Linked DNA regions of Homo sapiens: regions 1, 2, 3 and 5 are each reported to be linked to region 4. Evidence: microRNA targets listed by miRTarBase, many of them from high-throughput screens and not tested one by one. Region 4 holds a microRNA gene; each other region holds the end of a gene's coding sequence.

Region 1 (4,118 bases), not on the chromosome of region 4:
CCCTGGGCCCATGACAGCATCGCCCTTGGGCCTTCCTCTGCAATTCTGGTGGTGTGGAAGGAGTGGCCAGCATGGCTCCAGCAAGGAGGGATGTCCTTGGCCTCCTTGTTCCAGCCACAGGGTCGCCGGAGCCCCAGCACCCTCTCCCTTCCTCTCTCCTTAATGCCCACGCCTGCACCTACTGGAGCTTCAGGAGCGGGTGGACAGACCCAACTTGGAGCTAAGGGTTGGGTTCCAGCCCAGTCCCTGCTGAGAGTGACCTAAAGCAAGCTGTGCTGCTCTCTCACCTACAGCAATTGCAACTAAGAGATGAGAACCACCGGAAAGAAGGAGCACCTGCTTGTCAGGGAGCAGAGAGGGACCCTTGACATGCGCGCGCTCCTGCTGCTGAGACTGTACTGTTCAGAAACCTGTCCCTCTCCCCTCTTAAAGCCAGAGGGCTCTCCCTGTCAGTTTGCTATTCTCAAGTGGCGTGGGCCTGCCCCTTGAGAGAGGGAAGAAAAGCGCGTGGTTGTCACGGTGGGAGAGGTACTGCCTAGCAATGGATGGTGGAAGCTGGTGGGCCTGGAAAGTGTTCCTCCACAACGCTGTCCCTCTGCCAGGCACGTGCGATCCAGAGTGGGTTAGACTGGTTCCCGTCACAGGCAGGGTCCTCAGTGGAATGGTGTTTTTGAAAGATGGAGCGTCCGGGCGCCCCCATCTTCTCACAGCACAGAGAAGGGGCTGGCTGGCCCGCCACCGGGAGGCTGGCGCAGAGGGACTCAGCCGTGGCCCCGGAACAGCGGGCCACCGTCAGGAACCGGCGAGTCAGGGTGGGAAGAGGCCCTGGAGTGAGCGAGGCTAGCTTCACTTCCTTCAAACTCTGAAGGCCCACCCCATAAAAAGAAGGGGTAAATTCGTCTGGGGTCTGAACAGCCAGGACCAAGAGCGCTCTCAGGCTGCTAGTTGGAGAAACTGGCTCGGCTCGGGCCTTGCTGGGACTCGGGCTCCCAGGGTCTGCTCGGTCTCTCTCGGGGCACTCGGGTCTTTGCTGGGCCCGGCGCCGGCCCCGCACAGAGAACCGGCTTCAACGGCGCAGTCTCAGCCTCCGGGAGGAAAAAGCTGGGAGTAGGCCTCACTGACACGGCCCCGCCTCGCGGGCTGCGCGCGCACCGGGACCTGCGCGGTGGCGGACGGGGAAGCGCCACGCAAGGCCCCGCCCCGCCCTTCCACAGGAAGGAAACGCGCCCCCGGGCGAGCGCCAGCCCCTCCCTGGAGCGGGATCGCCGCAGCTCTCCTGGCCGCCTCCGGCGCCGTTAGCCCACCATCCCCCGCTAGAGGGCAGCACGGGGCGCTTTCTCCAGGCGCTCGGCGGACCTGGGTACGGGGACCTCATATCAGGCTGCAGAGAAGAGCCTTCAGTCAAAAGGATGGCATGAAAAACGGACTATACTTGTAACATCCAGCTTTTAAAACGTGGTGGAGTCAAATTTATTGCTTCCTCAGGGCTTAAAAAAACCTCTTCTGTAAGTCTGCTTTATCAAACAGAATTTTTTTATCCCCTTGGTTGCTTGAAACTGAGCTATCAAACAAATTAATCATATATTAATGTCCCTCTAAGCCGGAAACCTGGAATTACTTTGAAAAGGTAAAATATTTTTCAACTTTGGTTTTCTGATCTTTTCAGTAGTTGTTTCGATTTGAATTAAACCTCTATAAAATTAGCTTTTACAAGTGAATTTAAAAGCCACGCCATACTTTATACTAAAAGAATAAAGATTTTTATTAAGCATTGTAAGTTGCATTCAATAGCCTTCAGATACACCACACCACAATCCATCGACAGTCAATCAAACCCAACAGCAGTTCATTCTTGCACAATCCATGAGTTAGGGCAAAACTCCCTTCAACTTACAGTAAGATCCTACTTAGCTCTTGCGGGCAGGGGTTGGGGAATTACACCTCATTTCTGATCACTAATGTGATGAAGAGCATCAGAAGTATATGAAAACGATAAGAAGTGATTCTGATTTCAAAGTACATTGTTTGGAAACATTAACAAAAACATCAAAATGATAGAAGTATACCTGCTTCTACTAAATTCTTGATGGGAAAGTTCTCAAGAACAAGCAATTTGTTTCCTGCTACAGAAGGGGGGGGTGGTTTTTTTTTTTTTAAGATCAAAGGGTTTTTTTTCACAGAATTTCATATTTGCTAATATGAAGGCATAAAACAGCAACAAAGAACAATAATGCATACAGCAGTGAATACACCAGGGTAATGTTGATATTCGAAACGGCTAGATAATTTTTGGGGGGCTTTAGAATAAATGCAACAGAGGTCAATAATCACAAAATTTTAAGGTTAGAGCAAGATCAGTCAATGACTAAACAGAGTTAACATCTTTTATAGGACTATTACTGATTATTAGCATTTTTGTTTTGCAAATGGGCACATACTGTTAAGAATGGAAGAAAGGACGATAACATGCATATTAACTACACACTTTAAAAATTATGAACCATGCAGAAGTTTAGCTCAAGTAGTAGTACTAATGGTCTACATCCGATTCAAAACCACATAGTTCATTGATCACAGATGCATGGTATTAGTCACGAAAGTTTCAGAACACATTGTGTTGATTTTGAAAGGTCATTTGCATCTTCTATGATTTCAACTTTATCTCCATTTAACTTGCTTGTAAAGTATGTATGATGTATTGTATATTTAAAATCAGCAGAACGGCAATATTACTCTATAATTTTTTAGTTTTGATAGTTGCACTTTTTTTTTTTAACACAAAAGAACCACATCAACAGTGATGAAATTTAAGAAAGAAAAACTGTGGTTGTGCCTTATTTCTTTCATAATCATAAAAATCAAAGCCTTAAAGAAAGCTTCATTGTGAAACAGTAATGCAAAATCAAATATAATGGCATACATATGGTGCCAAATGCTAAAAATTATATTTTAAGCTATATATACTTAAAGACTGCCAAAATTTGTTTTCTTTATAGTTCAAGAAACACAACTAAAGGCTTTTGTCATAACCAGTTTAAACTTTATGTGTACTTCATTTTAAGTGCGGGAGTCAAATGCTCTTCATTTTCTTTCTCTTTTTTGTTTTATTGTAGCATTTTGACTACAACTGGTTAAAACTAAAAATGTGTTGTTTAAATCTCTGATATCAAAGAGGGATCTGAATTTCCAAAGTCCTCATTTTTCTCTTACGGAAAGGACAAAATGTACATAACTGCAGGCTCTCTTTCTCTCCAGATATTCCTAAATCCTTACCCTTCCAGCATCCTTCACCCTCTATAAAAAATAAGTTTACTCTTCTTTATTTAAGACAGCTGCCTCCAGAGCAGCTTCTCTGCGGCAAGCGCTGTCTGTACTTAGTGCATTTAAATGAGGATTTGTATTGCACGTTTTAGAGTCATTATTCAAGGCACTTTCAGAGTGGCTGGGGGCCCTGGCGTCACCCGTGCTCCCGTTCATCTGGGGAGCCGGCTTCTCCTCGGCCATCACTCCGTTTTCAGCCAGGGACCCGTCTGAAGACATAGCAGAGGACTTCGATTCCCCAGATTTTGACTTAAGTTCTTTGGCCACTTCTTCTGCTGAAGCAGCATAAGGAGGTCTGCCCTGTTTAAAATGAAGGACAACAAATGAGAAGGTGGTTTCTGATAAACAGAAGAGAGAGGATGCCAATTTTGGCCTAATGACACTCTCTGCAGATTCAAGAGCAGAAAATGCCCAGCTGGGTCCTTCTAACCCTGTCTTTGCTTTGACTTTTGGGCGGTAGATGCTCTACCTGTCTCAGTCAGTTCCCTCCATGGCCCCTTCCCTCAACTCCTCTGTAGTTAACACCCTGAAAATGAGGGAGATTCCCCCTTCAGGAGCTCTGTCTAATCCTTTGTATGGCACTAAATTGTTTAAAGTAACAAATGCCCCTCAATAAGTCCTCTCTAAAATTGCGACTGTTCCCACTGCCACAAAACAAACAGGGTCTCCCACATCTGCCTGTGATGTGCAGCAGCACACACACCCCATTTCTACTGGGGAAATACAGTCATTGCTAGGGAACCTTAACAAGAAATCTGCACTGATAATTGCCACGTGTTTGTGAAATAACTCTTCTG
Region 2 (4,118 bases), not on the chromosome of region 4:
ATAACAGTGTAACATGGTAACTTTATTCTTCATATATAAATAAGGCATAATCGGATGTGTATTAATGCTGAAAATACATTTTATCAAAAGCATAAATACAAGTATTTGGGTACACATTGAAAGTTAGGACTTAACCAATTTCTTCTTACAAAAAATGATAAGGACATATGGTATTTGTTGAATCTAAATCAGCACTTCTAATCATTTCTGGTATTAAGGCGATCTTATTTCCTTCTACTTTAAACCAACCACTGCCACCAACTGAATAAGGATTTCCCTAAACAGCCTCAATTTGAGAGACTAACCAGAGGACCTTCTCTATGCAAATTACATGCCAATACACCTTAAAAGAAAATAAGACAAAAGTGAATGAGTTTTTTCATTCCATATTGCTTTCTTTGGTTGCAGAGCAATCCAGTGCCCTTTCCAGATAATAAAATTGAAATGAAGATTTCAATTTAATATTTGGCAGACAGCAACAATGCAGGTTATTAAAAATATTAAAGGGGCAGAGGCATGCTTTGAATTACTCAGATTTTCAGAAAACATTTGACAAAACCCTTTCTCTATAAAAGTTATGGTCTAAATTTATGTTGTTTTATAAGGCAACTGTATATACATTTCTTCAAGGTCAATGAAGACACTTGTGTGATATTTCCTCAGAATTAAATGAGAAGGCATTCAGATTTAAGAACAGAATGTAACACAGGATTAGGCACATTTTATTCCAAATCATAACCATAAAGATTTAGAAAATCAAATACATCAAAGAACTTTAAATCTAAATTACTTTTTTAGAGACTGGGGTAAGTTTGCATAGTGAAATTATGAGCACCTTTTCAATTCTGTTCACTAAATTTCATCTCTCTCTTCATATAGTGGTATTTCAAAAGGATTCAGTTTTCATGATACAGGTGTAAGACTCCTTTCAAACGTTTTTAAAATACAACGTATAAAAAAATGTGGACTGAAGCCTTTAGATTGAACTTAAAGTTCTACTGAATGTCAAAACAAGCCTAAGTTGAATATAAGTAATTCATTGCCTCAAAATATAGTCTAGATTTTAAAAGAATGTTGATTCTGAGACATTACATGCAGCAGGGAAGAAAACTGCAAATGCCCAAAATAACATGATATCTATTTGGTGTTTCAACACTTCTTGGTGGTAATTCAAAAGGGGGAAACTTGGTGATTTCTGCTTTGTCAGGCAATATCTATGGTTCGTATCACAGATCTTAACTATGACTTAAGTAAGATGAAGTGTCCTCTTTCTATAGGGATCTAACTTGAGCCCTCACTGGAGTCAAATGTTTTGGCCATTCAATTTGCTAAATGTATGGGTAAACTCTCCAATGAATAGTCCAAATGTTACTGTGCACATATTCCGATATTCATTAGCACTGCAATTATGCTAATTTTGTGAATTTAAACAATGTATTCTTTTTGGCAAGAAGCACTAGATGTAGAACTATTCAAACACGCATGAATGATACCATGATACCACGAACATGCACGATACCATGAACTTGCATCACGGTGCCGGGCTACGTATGTGTAGCTCATGGATTACCATGGCATGAAAATGCTAGAAGTTATATGGATACAATGATAGTGGAAGTTCAAATGTGAGAAAAGTCAGGTATGTCAAGAACAATCCCTGGTTAGTTCACTGAAAAGCCCCACTCTCGTATCAGACAGCAAGACAGAACAACAGCCACTGACTTGGAAAGGCTGGGTGATCCATAACGACCAATCTTTCAAGGACCAATAAAATACCTGAGTACACAGTCAGCTATACAGTAAAATGACAGATATCACAGTCTTAAAATTTTCAGGAAAAGTAGAAAAGCTGTCAGACTTTTCAAGCTGTCGCCAGCCTTGGACTTCTGTTTCTCTAATTGTAGCACTACATACAGCCTAGAAGATAGTATTTCAGTACTGCAAACCAGCCATTCTGATGAGTTCACTATGAATGTATCTGCGATCACAAAGCTACTTCGTGGACACATTTTAATTTGGTAAGCAGTCGGGGGAGGTCAATGTAATCATCTTTAGGTGCGAACTAAAAAAATTACTACTGATCCTTAGAAGCATCCTTAAAACATTTAAAATATACCTCAAAAAAGCTGGACTTTCAACAACAACAATTATACAAATGTATACATACTGTATCTGTTAGAGACACACCAAGAATGAACAGGAATCTCAAATAATGCCTTCTTGAATAGTCTTGACAGAAAAATACTGCCCTTAGCAAACTCCAAATAAACAAAACGATGCCACAAATGGCACAGTGTGGAGTTGATGGGACTGGACAGGACAGCAAAAGATAGATGTTTGTGATGATACAACAATGATTTCCTACAGTAAGGATTGGTCTTTACTGACCAACTGAGATAGGGCTTAAAAGTCAAATACATGACATTCTGGAACAGGTTAAGTTTATTTAGAAAGTTCTGTTACCAAGTTGCTTGCAGTTTTTAGTTGCTGCTATGGCCAGAATGTTTCACATATGGTACATTAAACTACATGATAATTAAATATGAGAAAGGCAAATTCTATTTCACTCGTTACGTTTGACCAAAACACGGTAAACAGCATTAGCTTGCCTTTTGCTCTCCCATACCACCTGTGAACTCTTCATCAGCATCAGACCAAAGATCCTTATGTAAACTTGAAAACAGGAAGAACATTACCTTCAGAAACACAGAAATCTAAAAGCAAAACAGCTGTTGTGTATACAAGCAATTAAAATATGAAGGCTAAACCTTCTATAAACCTACAGAATGCCATTTCTTAGATAGAACTTCTAACAGCCCTTACAAAATAGGAGGTCACCATAAAGTTAGGCAACAAGTGTCACTGCTATATGTAAGGCGGACAGAAGATATCTTGTTTTGGAACTGAATATTCCTAACCTCATCCCTACAAGTATTTAAGGACACCTTTGATACTTGGCACTGCAGGAGAATTCAGTTTGGAAAGTAGAATAATTTAAAGCCTGAAATATGCCTAGTCTGAGGTCAGCTGGGAGGTTTTAACTGGACTTGAATAGAAGCCATGGTGAAACAGATCAAAGCCTGCATTACAGCAAATCTTGGCGATGAGTCACTCAACAGCTTTCAGCCACAAACCAAAGGCCGCAGAAAAAGTACTAAGATTTTCAAGAAGTTAAACGTAGAATTAAGATTGTTCTAATTCTGGTTGTAAACTGCTATTTTAAAAAACAAAACAAACAGAAAACATCAAAAACACAAAAAGATATTAAAACAGCAAGTCTTTTGTACATCACTGTAGCATAAGCTGCTTGAGGTTGTCATGCAGAATAGTATCCTTCACGTCACGGAAAACAAGGCGGATGTTCTCCGTGTTGATAGCAGTGGTGAAGTGGTGGTATAAGGGCTTCTGTTGCTGGTCCCGGCGTTTGTTCCGGAAACATTCCACCAGGAATTTTTGGACGTCTCTTAAGCAGTGGGGATCCCCTTCAAATTCTAGGAAATAGTCTTTGATGCTCACAATTTGCACCTTCTCCTCAAGCAAGTCTGTCTTGTTTAAGAACAGAATTATGGAGACATTGCTGAAAACCCGGTTATTGACGATTGTTTCAAAAATGTTCAGAGACTCTGTAAGGCGATTGGTCAGTCGATCTTCCATAAGCACCTGGTCAAATTCACTTGAGGAAACAAGGAAAAGTATTGATGTCACACTGTCGAAACATTCAAACCAACGTTTCCTTTCTGATCTCTGACCACCTACATCAACCATTTTGAAAGGAACATTTTTTATTTCAAAGTCGTATTCATGGATGCCTTTGGTGGGTCTTCTGGCAAGCAGAATATCTTGTTGTGATGGAATATAATCCTGGAAAAGAAAAAACTTGTTTTATACCTATTAATCCCGAAGTAATGCGAATTTTTAATGGACTACTAACTGGACTAGTGAATAGATATGCAAACAAAATGATCTTTTAAGTGACATTTTCAGATAGATTATGCTTATTATAAAATGCCAAGACTGGTCAGACATGGTGGGTCATGCCTATAATCCCAGCACTTTGGGAGGCTGAGGCAGGAGGATCGCTTGCGAAGCCAGGAGTTTGAGAATATCCTGGGCAATAT
Region 3 (4,118 bases), not on the chromosome of region 4:
GCCTTCCTAGTGGTTAAAAATAAGAAAATGAAAAGGGAGTCATTTAGGCCGGGCACGGTGGCTCATGCCTGTAATCCCAGCACTTTGGGAGGCTGAGGCGGGTGGATCACCTGAGGTCAGGAGTTTGAGACCGGCCTGGCCAACATGGAGAAACCCCGTCTTTACTAAAAACACAAAATTAGCTGGACGTGGTGGCTCATGCCTGTAATCCCAGCTACTTGAGAGGCTGAGGCAGGAGAATCGCTTGAACCTGGGAGGCGGAGGTTGCGGTGAGCCGAGATCGCACCATTGCACTCCAGCCTAGGCAACAAGAGTGAAACTCCGTCTCAAAAAAAACAAAAAAAAAAAAAAAGAGTAATTTAAAGAGCAAGATTAAGTGTCAAGGGAAGGAGACAGAAAAAAAAAAAGTAAATGATCACCTCAACCTCCTTGAGTAGTTGCTTCAATATAGGATTCACTCATTATCCAAGGTCTGCATGAAATTTTAGGTAAGTCATTTTATAAATTGTTCTACACTAGTATCACCTCTACATTTGAAAAATCAAGAGTTGACTTTATTGACTCTATTGAAAAGCCTCATGTTTCTAGGCAAAGTACCTTTAGCCCAAACCCTAAAATACCCCATTTGTTTCATTCTGAAAAATGCAGTCAATCCTACTACAAAGCAGGAAAATATATTTATAATAAAGTAGAGACAATAGTATTAAAAAATGAATCTCTACAGGAATAATTTACATGAACACATTTATTGTGAGTAGCTGTATGGAAAGGCAAGTCAGATATATATAGATATACATATATATATAAACACTATACAGAGTTGCAAAGTCGTCTCCCAAAACTGCAAACGAGATGTTTACAAGGAAAAGAAAGTACAAGAGTATTTACAAAGGAAGACAAAGCCAAAGCAACTCAAAGCATATCTGTGAAGCAGAAATAGCAGATGTAATTAGCTGGTGGAACTGTAAAGTTTCAGTTTTTAACGACCAAGTGACTATGCCTGATATCAAATTAAATGTAGAGGTCACACACACAAAAATATTCCATCATTGTTTTTTCTTAGCAGCATGAACTGATAGCTGGAAGGTAAGTGATAAGTTGGTAAACATATTCCACAAAGATTCTTCCAGCACAATACTGAATAAATTAATTGTCTGTAAACTAATAAATAATGAGAACAAGATTGCATTTGTTATGCAGTACCTGTGACTATGTGTACCTGTTACTATTTGTATAATACGTACTACTGTGTATGAGGTTTCTCATTCATTTATTCAGCAACTGTTACATCTGTGCTGTACCCTCTGTACCCTGTCTGCTGGCAGCTTCTGAACCTAATATGCAAATAAAGTGATACAGTATTTTCCCCCAAGTAATCTTTTTTCCCACAATTCTGAACAATTATTACTTAACTTACTTGAAAAAATAAAATGGTGACAGAAGGCTTGAAAAAAAGTTGCCTAAAGAGCGCGTTGTTATAATGAACAAAAGCCACACTGCGTTATTTGATTAGGTTGGAAAAAGAGAAGAGTCTGAAGGAACTGATAAAGTTGATGCCCTAGCAGTGACCAGTAACTGGAACAATGACTGATCTCATAGCCACGTCCTCTCCTCAGCACAATTTACAAGAGGGAAAAAAGAGCCCACCATCCCTTTGGTTGGTAGGCAAGGAAAAATAGAAGTCAACTCGGTTCTTTGGAAAAGTTAGTTTAGCAACACGTACTATAAGCTTGCTTGAAGATAGAAGTACACGTTCAAAGACATTAAAACCAAGTAGTGAAAACCTTTAGATAAATATTACACTACTTCAAAGTTGCACATTAAATGCGAAGCAAATTTCATTTTAACAGAGTTTACACACAACAGGTACATCTACAATCACATGTACACAGGTACACAAAGTGTGCATACACACGAATATGTACACACACACACTAGTGCTCACACACATACAAACACACCCAACTGTGATATGATGAGGTTTGCCAATGATGGTACAGCAAGCCAAGATTTGTGTGCCACCACGGAACAAAGCTCTAAGCAAGCTTCAAGACCTTTGTACCTATTCTCTGTGGTCACCACCTTGCTAGTGTCACGTTCTCAAAGGTCCAGGTACCTAAAATCTTAATTCAGTTTACATCAGAGGCAAGCAAAAATAGAACGGGGGGGAGCTTGCTCTGATTTTTTTTTTTAATTTGGTACATCTTATATTGGCTCAATATCCAGAAGGAAACAAGGCCTTATAAGAGGTTCTTTTTGGCTTAAGTTTTTGTCAGAATATTGATTGATAAGTAAACACTAATTTCTTGAATATGGGAAATTGATCTCTTTATAGTAGCCATGGGCATAAGAGGAAGAGTGTGCATTGGGGAAAATGGAGAAAGAATAAGAAAAAGTAGAATAGAGGTTGAAAGTGGGGAGAGGCCCAGAGAAGCAGGGAGGGGCCTTGGGAAGAGACTTTTGAAGAGCTTTGTTTCTTTTAGGAGGTAAATGTAGGTTTCACAATAAATGAAAAATAATAGGTTTGGAAATACTCAATCGATTTTCAGGCAGAACATCACAGTGTTGTATGTGAACAAATAGCTGTTTCTCAGTTCTGCCTTTAAAATGTTGGAAATGCTCAATCAAGATATTAGTTTCATTGACATATAACATGAGCAGAATGTTGCAGTTTTGCTAATGAGCAAAACTTGAAATAATCTGCCCTTTAGTCCTGCCTTTAAAATACTGGTAATGCCCCATCAAGATATCAGTTCAGTTGACATTTAATTCATTGATCAAGAAATGTTTTGTGTGTGTAATACTCGGAAAAAAGATTCCAGATCATACCTTCCTTCCAATTATGACAGCTGTTTTTTCTTTATGTGCCCTGGTTTAAAGTTTTTCAACTTCAAAATTGAATCTAAATATTTTACATTATTAAAATTGGCATTGACCAAATTTATATGTATTCTAAGTTACTTTTTTTTAAAGAGGGAAAGAGTTATGAGATGCTCACTTGTATAGTATCTGTTTCCTTTCAAAGGGACAGACTGGGGAGGAAAACCAGAAAACAAAAAACAAAGCACAGTGTAAATATTGTTAATTAGAAATCACTGGATCCATAAGCAGCAGTATGAATGATCTGCATGAATAGGATCATTCAATTGCCAGAGTCCACTTGTAGGCTTGTAGAAATTTGGGTTGCTTTCTACTCAGAAGCCTCTGAGTTTTCTTTCCTTTAGGCAGATCTGGAGTAGACGAAGATAAAATTCCATAAGCATCACTTTTCTTCTAAAATGTGTTTTTGTGGCAATATAATCACTCTAGGAAAAAGATAATAAAACAAAAGTTACTTGCAGAATTAATGTGGAGAGCTGTCACCCCCACCCTGTTTTAAAACAAAACAACACAAAACAAAACAAAATCTAACTAGAAGTTTTTGAGAGATATACAGAGGAGACTGCCTGGGCATGGACATGGTTAATCAACTCTGCTGGCTGCCTGTGAGGAATATCAGCTGGGCAAAGACACAAGGGCAGTTATTCTTCTTGCCCCCAGGCTGTCACTGACATTTCTGGTGGACAGCATCTTTGCACGTGCGTGCACTGTTCTACTTTCTTCCAGTGGAGCCCAAGAGTGAGCCAGGCATTGTGCAGAGAAACAGATTTTTTTCTTCTTCTTCTACATGTTTGACTCTGCCTTCACCAGGTTATGTGGCACAAGTCATAGGATTTAAGTACAGCATTGGTGATGGTCTCTAGACTCAATCATTGAATTTCTTCTAATAGAACAAAGTCATACCTGCAAAGGAGACTTGAAATTCCCATCTGTTTAATAAAAGAAAAAAGTTCCAGCATTATTCTCTTGGCTTTCTGCTTTTGAGTGGGTGCATAATGGGGAGTGTGGCAGGGGGTGATCAGATACATAGAAGAAGGTGCTGGACCAGAGAAGGGATAGGAATAAATGATCAGCAAATTGATTATGGGATGCCAGTGTTACCTTAAGATCAGGTCACCACAAAGTACCAAGTATTCTATTTTATTTGAGACATCTTAAAAGAATCCATGGAAAACATCCCCCAGAGTGGGCTTCAAGTACAAGATTGTCTATTAAACTGGAAATATACATTTTAAGTA
Region 4 (4,118 bases):
GTTGCAGATGCTAAAAGCAGTCTGAGGACCTTGGTCATTTATAGCTTATAAATCACTGACAATCAGAAAGAAAAACTAGTATACAAGCATTTAACAGTTACACTTCAGTTACTCATGTATTGGTAAACTGGTACTTGCTTAATAGAAACAAATTGTACCCCAACCCTAAATTCCATGCTTAAAAAAACTCATCTTTACACATTGCTTTAAACAGAGCGGCATTCTCTCTAAATTTAAATACTTGAGTAATATATGAGCAACATAAATTAACTTTTAGATTAAGTAAAATATCCTGGAATAACACTAACTCCAAAGAAAGCAAAAAGATATACTCTAACTTTACAGATGATCATCAGGTATACAGTATGTTTAGTCATATCGCAATACTTAACAGCCAAATAAATCTAACAACAAAAAATATAGCCAGAATTTATACTGCCAAATCTGACACGCAACCCCAAAAGTGAAATGTTTTTGAATGAAAACAAGACAAGATGTATTTACACAAAAAGTTACACATTTTCTTTAATATTTCATGTATCTTGTACATTTAACAGTGGAAGTCGAAATCTTCAGTAATATTTAATTTTCAAAATCTTCTGGTCACAATCCCCACCAAACTCAACAGGCCGGGACAAGTGCAATACCATACAGAAACACAGCATTGCAACCGATCCCAACCTGTGTAGAAAGGGGTTTGAGTTTCCCTTACTTTTCTACAGACTTTTCACTACCACAGTCAGTTTTGCATGGATTTGCACAGCAGAATATCACACAGCTGGATGCAAACCTGCAAAACTAACCATAGAACAGTGTTCAGTAACAGGACAGTTTGATTGGGCGACAGGCCGAAGCTGGAGTTCTACAGCTAGCAGTACTTTAAGTGCTCATAATGCAGTAGATAACTAAACACTACCTGCACTATAAGCACTTTAGTGCTACAGAAGCTGTCACATCAGATAGACCAGGCAGATTCTACATCGACACAATAAAAGTACACAAAATTAGTAAAAATCATTCATTTGAAGGAAATAGCAGGCCACCATCAGTTTTGCATAGATTTGCACAACTACATTCTTCTTGTAGTGCAACTATGCAAAACTAACAGAGGACTGCAAACAAAAACTATTAAAACACCTATATACTTGCTTGGCTTGAATTATTGGATGAATACATAACTTCTTATGCCAGAAGGAGCACTTAGGGCAGTAGATGCTAATCTACTTCACTATCTGCACTAGATGCACCTTAGAACAAAAAGCACTCAACATCAGCAGGCCCTGCACTTTAAAGCCCAACTTGGCTTCCCGAGGCAGCTGTCACCATAATGCTACAAGTGCCTTCACTGCAGTAGATGCACATATCACTACCTGCACTGTAAGCACTTTGACATTATTCTGACTGGTCACAATCTTCAGTTTTACAAGGTGATGTTCTCTTTTTTCCTGCTAAATTTGAAATAGATAATTAGAATTAACACCTCAAACTCTAACAACTATAAACCATACAAATTCAGCATAATCCCTAATGGGGAAGAAAAAATTAGTTTAATTATCTCAAAGATATGAGGTCCATTTAGACACGTATTTATGCCTTAAGAATTCTTTACAGAAGGCAATCATAACCAACCATCCAACTAGCACTGGAAGTGGTGGCTCTTCCAATGGCTGGCCTCTCCCAAATGGATTGACACATAGAGAAAAAAAACAAAACAAAATGAGACTGCAAATAAATGAGAACTAATTTTGGAACATTTAAAGGCAATTTAGTCCATGTGTACCTTTTAGAGGAAATCTTCACATCCACGTGGCAAAACATTTTCCTCCTCTTCTGGCTTCCACTTAGCAAATACTTGTTGAAATGATTAACAAAATTACTGTTCAGACTACACTTCAAGTGTTATCAGTCAATTGTAGCAGAACGTAAATATCCTGTTTAAATCTATCATCTCAGGTTATATCTACTTTATCACCCAACTTAAAAGAGGGTCTAAAATTATATTTCGTAAACTGCATAAGCCAGTTTCCAAAAATGTACAGGAATATTTACACTGTAATTTTACTACCTTAAAATTAGCAAATCCGTACTTAATGAGTTAGTTTTTCAGAAAAGGTACATTGTCTAAAGAAAGAAACACCTACTTTTACTCTCTAAGAAACCAATCCTATTTATTCAACTTTAATAGCAAGAAAAATTTGTTTTTAAGAAAAGTTCAAGAAAATCAGAATACACTTACCCATTCCAGAAAACTTCCTTTTCAGCAAGTATTCTCAGAAAAGCTACTGGTGCAGTTAGGTCCACGTGTATGACTGGAATAGGGAAAAATAAGGAAAAAAAAGATAAAACATTATTTGCTCAAAATTACTACCACCGTCCAAATCTATATTTGCTATTTTCCAACCTCCTAACAGCAATTAATTCCATCCATTTGTGAGAGTAAGAGTCGAGCAATACTAGCAGGATTTAAAAGCCCAATAATTTACAGTTGAAAAATACGTAAGAGAATAAAGTTGAAAAATCCTTAGCTATCAGATACATGTCTAAATAAGCTCCTAAAATACTTGATTATGATCAGCAGCAATCACCGACTCCACTGTACAGCTCCAGTAAAAGGAAAAAAAAAAAGCAGCCCACAGACTATTCTTCACCACCCCTCCCCCAATCAAGACCTCGTGGCTGCAAGCCGGGATAAAGAGTTGTTTCTCCAACTGCTGTGGTCCTGATGGCATGCCGTTAATTTTCTCTTTTGGTGATATTGCAACGACGAGCCTGCCTTTTTCAGTTCCTTTTCCCTTTGCTGCAGTTTAGGAACAGAAGACCGGGCAGGAACACCCGAGACTGCAAAGTGCCCGCCACGCTCATGGAGCCCGGGCCGGCAGCACATGTCGCACAAGGGGGAGCGCGGCCCTGCGATTCTCCGCGTAGCCGCCAGGGGGCGGCGGGTCAGAGTCAGGCCCCGCCGGACGCGGCAACCCCCCCAACCCGTTTCCCGGCGGCAGCCGCGCGGCGACCGGCGGCGCCGAGGCCCGAGTGCGGCGGGGACGCGGGCGCGCCGCCCCTCCTTTGTGTCCCCCAGCCCCCCCGAGCCCGGCCCAGAGGGGCGGGGGCTCCGCGGCCGCGGTGCCCGTCGCACGCGGCCCGAGGCCTAAGCCGGGAACAATCGGCGGCGGCGCGCAGTCGCCGCCATGTCCCCCGCCCTCACCCCCGTGCAGCCCGCCCCGCAGGAACATGGCGGCGGGGACGCCGCTCCCGCCGAGCCGGGCTGGCCCTCCCGCGCCACACTCCCAGCAAGCGGCCGGGCGCAGGCGGCTCCACGCCGCGGCTGAGGCCGACTGCGGCCTCCTCCGAGGGCCACGGCGGGGAAGTTGCGGGCCCCGCCCCGAGGCTGCCCACGCGGGCTAACAAAGCCCACGCGGAGCGGGGGTGGCGCCCAGGCCGCGCCGATCTCGGCGCCCCTCCGCCCACCCTCGCGCGTACAAAGTTTGGGGAACCGCGGGCTCCCGCCCACGCCACGCCGCCCGCTGGCGCGCAGGTACCTCGTGGGCGCGCCCCCTCCCGGCCCGCGGCCTGCCCCATGTGCCGCCGCCGCCGCCGCTTTGTTCTGGAGGCGCTTTAACTCTCGCCCTCGGGAGAAACTTTCCTACCCAGAGACCCCACGCCCCGCGCGCGCCCCGGGCCCCGGAGAAGGCACGGGCCTCGCACGTCCTCTCCCCGAGGGGCCATTGTGTTCGCCGTCCGCCCACCCGCCTTCGGGTCGGCCCAGGCAGGGTCTGCGCGGGTCCCGGGCGCGGCCGCCACGCGCACGCCGCCCCCTCCCACCCTCCCGCCCCGGCCCTGCCCCCCTCCGCCGGCCCGCGGGCGAGCGAGGGGGCAGCCAGATGCGGCTGCCACACGCCGGGGCGGCCAACGGCCGAGACCCGCCCCGGCCACGCCGCCGCCGCCACGCTGCCCCGGGCCAGTCCGCCCCGGGCCGCTCCGCCCCGCCCGCCAGACCCGGGCCGCACACAACAGGTTTCCCTCCGTCGCCGGAGGGGCGGGCAGACTCACCAGGAGGAGTAGCCGCCACCATCTTCGGCTGGCCGGCCGCGGGCTCCTGCTCCCGCCTCCCCGCCCGCCTG
Region 5 (4,118 bases), not on the chromosome of region 4:
CGGGATGTGGGCAGTGCGGAGCTGGCACTGTTGGTAGCCCCAGGCAAGCCCCGACCTGGCAAGCCGCTGCCCCCGAAGACACGTGGAGAGCAGAGGCAGAGCGCCTTCACGGAGCTGCCGAGGATGAAGGACCGGCAGGTGGATGCTCAGGCCCAGGAGAGGGAGCACGATGACCCCACAGGCCAACCTGGTGCCCCACAGCTGACCCAGAACATCCCCAGAGGCCCAGCTGGCAGCAAAGTCTTCTCTGTGTGGCCCAGCGGAGCACGAAGTGAGCAAAGAAGCGCCTTTAGCAAACCAACCAAGCGACCAGCAGAGAGGCCTGAGCTAACCTCAGTCTTCCCTGCAGGGGAATCTGCAGATGCCCTGGGGGAGCTGTCTGGACTCCTCAACACTACAGACCTCGCTTGTTGGGGTCGACTTTCAACTCCCAAGCTTTTGGTTGGTGATTTGTGGAACTTGCAAGCATTGCCACAGAATGCTCCACTCTGTAGCACTTTTCTGGGTGCCCCTACACTGTGGCTGGAGCATACCCAGGCCCAGGTGCCCCCACCCTCATCATCCTCCACCACTTCGTGGGCCCTCCTGCCACCCACCCTCACCTCCCTGGGCTTGTCCACCCAGAACTGGTGTGCAAAGTGCAACCTGTCCTTTCGCCTAACGTCCGACCTGGTCTTTCACATGCGATCCCACCACAAAAAGGAGCATGCGGGGCCTGACCCACATTCTCAGAAGCGGAGAGAAGAGGCCCTTGCCTGCCCTGTGTGCCAGGAGCACTTCCGGGAGCGCCACCACCTCTCCCGGCACATGACTTCTCACAGCTAGCAGGTGACCGCAGAATGACCTGCTGGGTGCAGCAGCCAGCCTTTGGCAGAGGGGGGCTCCCTGGGCCTGCGTTGAGGGGGCTGTCATGGTCCTTTGCAGAGCTGCTGCTTTTGGCATTCATAGATAAACAGCTCAGGCATAATTTGAAAAAGCCACACCTGCATGATGTGTTTTGAAGGAAATGAAGTCCTGAAATAAAGTGATGGGCTTTGCAAATCCAGGGTAGAGGCCCTAACAGGCACAGAGAGCAGGGGCAACTCCTGGCACACATCATGGGCTTTGGAGGCACACAAGCCTGGATTCGAATCTGGGCTCTTTCACATACTAGCTGTGACCCTGGACAAAGAGCTTTAACCTGCTGAGTCCCCATTTTCTCATCTGTGAAATGGAGATGATAACACTGTGTCTTAGGTTGGCATTCAGGTCACATGAAAGGTGTGTGGAAAGTGGCCAGCATTCTGCCTGCAGACCCTGAGCACTGAGTCAACAAGGTTTGTGATGATGTCTGTACTAGTTAGCTATTGTTATTAACAAGATCTCCATGGCAGACAAGCTAAAGCATCTGCCTAAGTCGTGAGTCTGTGGGTTGGCTCAGGTTAAGCTGAGCTTGGCTGGGCTTGGCAGCAAGTCTCAGATTTGATCAAGTCATATTCGTTTTCTTCTTCGGCTGGTGGGCTACCCAGAGCGAGCACGCTTCTCTCGTGGTCATGCCAAGAACACAGGAGGGTGAGTCTAACAAGCACACCTCAAGCCTCTGCTTGGGTCACATTGCCAATGTCCTCTCAGCCCATACAAGTGGCAGGACCAGGCCCAATATTAAGGAGTGGAAAAGTGTAGGCTGCCCTTGGTGAAGCTGTGACAAGGGAGTGACCATCCATCCCCTCCACAGGAGGGTGAGGAATTGGGACAGGTAATTCCAGCCAATACCTGGTCCATAGTTCTTCACATTGTGAGTATATGAATACGGGGAAATAGAACCCCCTCCCCACCACCTACACACATGCTGTTTTACCTTCCAAGAATAGGACATGTGCAAAAACTAGGCTTCCAGATCGTGAGGCTGGGGAGCATTCTAGGTACCATTTATTATCTACTGCGTTTCGGTCAGTAGCTGTTGTAGGTACCCGCATCAGCCCTTGTTCCTAAGGATGTGTGGAGCCCAGGCTGTACTCTTTGACATTCCACAGGTCAGTCTGCGTGAAAGCCCTTTGTGGGGAGTTTCCAAGCCAGTGTCGTTTTTGCACTGGTTTCCACCTCACTGTCAGATATTGTTCTTTTGATATGCAGTTTCCAGCCCTCCAATGAGTCCCCAGCACAGATCTCAGGCTTGTGGCTGGGAATAAGCCCAGCTGAGCAGGTGGGGATCTCAGCCAGCCTCCCAGACTGCACCTCTTCTATTGCTCTCCTCTGTCCACCGTTCCAGGCAGCAGCACTCCCACCTGGCTGCTCTGATGTCCTCGCTCCCTCCATTCCTGCCTCTCACCATGCACGCATCCATTGTCCACACACACACAACCAGATAATCTTCTGAAAGTGTAACTCAGATGATGCCTCCAACCCTGTGGCTGCCCTTCACACTTACAGGCCTAACCCCAGCAGGACCTGCCAGCTGCTTCATGAACAAGTCCCTGCCTCATGTTAATTGCAAGCACTCATTTCACTCTCCCTGTGTGCCAGGCAATAGCATAAGCACTGGAAGAATACAGATGTTATAGTGAGTCCTACAATAGCCCTGGAAGGCAAGAGCTGTTTCCTTTCCATTTCTACAATGAGTCAATTGCAGATGATGCTATAACACTTCCAGTGTTTCTGACACTTCCCTGAAGCTATACCTGCTACCTTCATGGGCCGAGCTTGCCCTTATGAGGCCCACAGGTGGCAGTGGGCAGAGGGGACCCCGCTATACCACCTCGCTGCTGTTCCACTGTCTGCTCCCGTGTTCTGACCACAGCTCTGGTGCCGTTTCTCAAGCCTGGGCTTCATTCAACATTTTCTATCTAGCTCTTCATGGTGCTGCTCCTGCTATGGTTCCACAGGGCTTCTTCTCGCAGGTCAGCTCCTTAGAGAGGTCTCCCAGATTCCCCGTAAAGCAGCCCTGCAGCCTCTGCCTCTCTCAGCCGCATCACCCTGTTGCTTCCTTCACAGCATGTCTCACCATCTGCAACCATCTTTCTGTTTGTCGTCTTGTTGATTTGCTGCCTCCACACTGTCAGCTCCTTGGGAACAGAGATTGGTTTGTTTACTGTGCATCCCTGGTGCCCAGAACAGGGCATGGCATATTGTTGGTGCATAATAAATATTGTGGAAATAATTTCTGTGTGAGAAGCTGGGTCTGAATATGTGTGCAATCTTCCTTTGGCTGTGGAGGGTTGCAGGAGGCTGCCATGCAGCTGGAAGGCTCCATGTGTACTGAGCTTCCTTCACCTACGCTGTCTCCCTGGCCAGGCAAGGGATTGAGTGAGTGGGTCCATTTCCATTCATTTATTCAGCATCCCTGGGCACTTTGAGCTGAGCCTCAAAGGCAAGTATGTGCCGGTGATTTGGTGATGCAGGCAGGGGAGCAGTGGCTGAGGAGAAAGATCAGTCCAGAGTCTGCAATTGTGTCAGGGTGTGAGGAGGAGATGGAGGGGCAGGGGTAGGAGGGCCTCACGGGAGAGCGGTTTGGACCGAGGGGACTGAGGGCTTGGCTCGGAGAGGCACTTTGGGGGTACTCTCCAGCTGCAGTGGGGAGCGTGGCCTGGAGGAGGGGGCCTGGACCCCCTGAGCTCATTGTCTTCCACATCTAGAAGAGGGAAGGGTGCTCCCTGCAGGTGCCAATAAAGCATCATCATTCCCAAAGGGACACTGGGAGGTCCCTTGCTCACTAAGACAAGACAAGGAAAGCTCAGCCTTGCTGGCCCCTTTAGGTGCTGTGTGGGGGTGTCATTTACACATGGAGAGGCTGAGCACAGAAGGCAGCTGAAGCTATGGGAGCCTCCCCGTGTGCTGTCTCAGGTGAGGCAGGAAAGGGCAACTCAAGGTCTCGGCATGAGGCCCCACACTATGCACTTGACACGCAGCAGCCAGGAGGCAGATTGTTATTAATAATTCCCACTCTGCTGCAGATGACATTAAACTCCAAGAGGTCAAGAACTTTCCTAAGACCATGGGCTCAGGAGCATCAGTGCAAGAATAAGACTCCAGGACCCCAGATTGAGCTCATGTCCTTTTTAGCCTGCCACTTGTCTGCCCAGCCCAGTGTGGTTGGATGATTCAGGAACTGGGACAGCAGCAGGTGTAGGCTCCCTGTCTCA

What was found. The annotated mature microRNA hsa-miR-18a-3p reads ACUGCCCUAAGUGCUCCUUCUGG and lies in region 4 at 1,188-1,210, opposite strand. An mRNA with a match to its seed (bases 2 to 7 or 8) in the 3' UTR can be bound and repressed. Matches are read on the target gene's strand: a 7mer-m8 pairs with bases 2 to 8, a 7mer-A1 pairs with bases 2 to 7 and ends in A, and an 8mer does both.
Region 1: the mRNA of FAM120A is a reported target of hsa-miR-18a-3p. The part of its 3' UTR that is shown has no 7-base or 8-base seed match.
Region 2: the mRNA of GNA13 is a reported target of hsa-miR-18a-3p. Seed matches in the 3' UTR shown: 7mer-m8 at 2,245-2,251.
Region 3: the mRNA of IRS4 is a reported target of hsa-miR-18a-3p. Seed matches in the 3' UTR shown: 8mer at 2,700-2,707.
Region 5: the mRNA of ZNF488 is a reported target of hsa-miR-18a-3p. Seed matches in the 3' UTR shown: 7mer-A1 at 2,709-2,715.

Annotation. Positions count from the first base shown.
Region 1 is chr9:93,563,732-93,567,849 of GRCh38, reverse strand. It overlaps FAM120A (family with sequence similarity 120 member A), which reads right to left. Exons shown (of 18, transcript NM_014612.5): 18 at 1,738-3,621. The coding sequence ends at 3,310. Among named protein-coding and RNA genes, the nearest start is that of PHF2, 11 kb to the left of the region's middle. RefSeq lists a silencer at 1,018-1,437.
Region 2 is chr17:65,010,969-65,015,086 of GRCh38, forward strand. It overlaps GNA13 (G protein subunit alpha 13), which reads right to left. Exons shown (of 4, transcript NM_006572.6): 4 at 1-3,861. The coding sequence ends at 3,289. Among named protein-coding and RNA genes, the nearest start is that of GNA13, 44 kb to the right of the region's middle.
Region 3 is chrX:108,719,219-108,723,336 of GRCh38, forward strand. It overlaps IRS4 (insulin receptor substrate 4), which reads right to left. Exons shown (of 2, transcript NM_001379150.1): 2 at 728-3,305. The coding sequence ends at 3,301. Among named protein-coding and RNA genes, the nearest start is that of IRS4-AS1, 15 kb to the right of the region's middle.
Region 4 is chr13:91,347,889-91,352,006 of GRCh38, reverse strand. MIR18A (microRNA 18a) reads right to left here and starts at 1,256; the gene lies at 1,186-1,256. It overlaps MIR17HG (miR-17-92a-1 cluster host gene), which reads right to left. Exons shown (of 3, transcript NR_197388.1): 1 at 4,048-4,118; 2 at 2,237-2,309; 3 at 1-1,851. MIR17 (microRNA 17) reads right to left here and starts at 1,402; the gene lies at 1,319-1,402. MIR19A (microRNA 19a) reads right to left here and starts at 1,116; the gene lies at 1,035-1,116. It also overlaps MIR20A, MIR19B1 and MIR92A1. RefSeq lists enhancers at 2,187-2,734, 2,735-3,282 and silencers at 2,832-3,821, 3,872-4,118.
Region 5 is chr10:47,364,514-47,368,631 of GRCh38, reverse strand. ZNF488 (zinc finger protein 488) reads left to right here. Exons shown (of 2, transcript NM_153034.4): 2 at 1-3,136. The coding sequence ends at 825. Among named protein-coding and RNA genes, the nearest start is that of ZNF488, 18 kb to the left of the region's middle.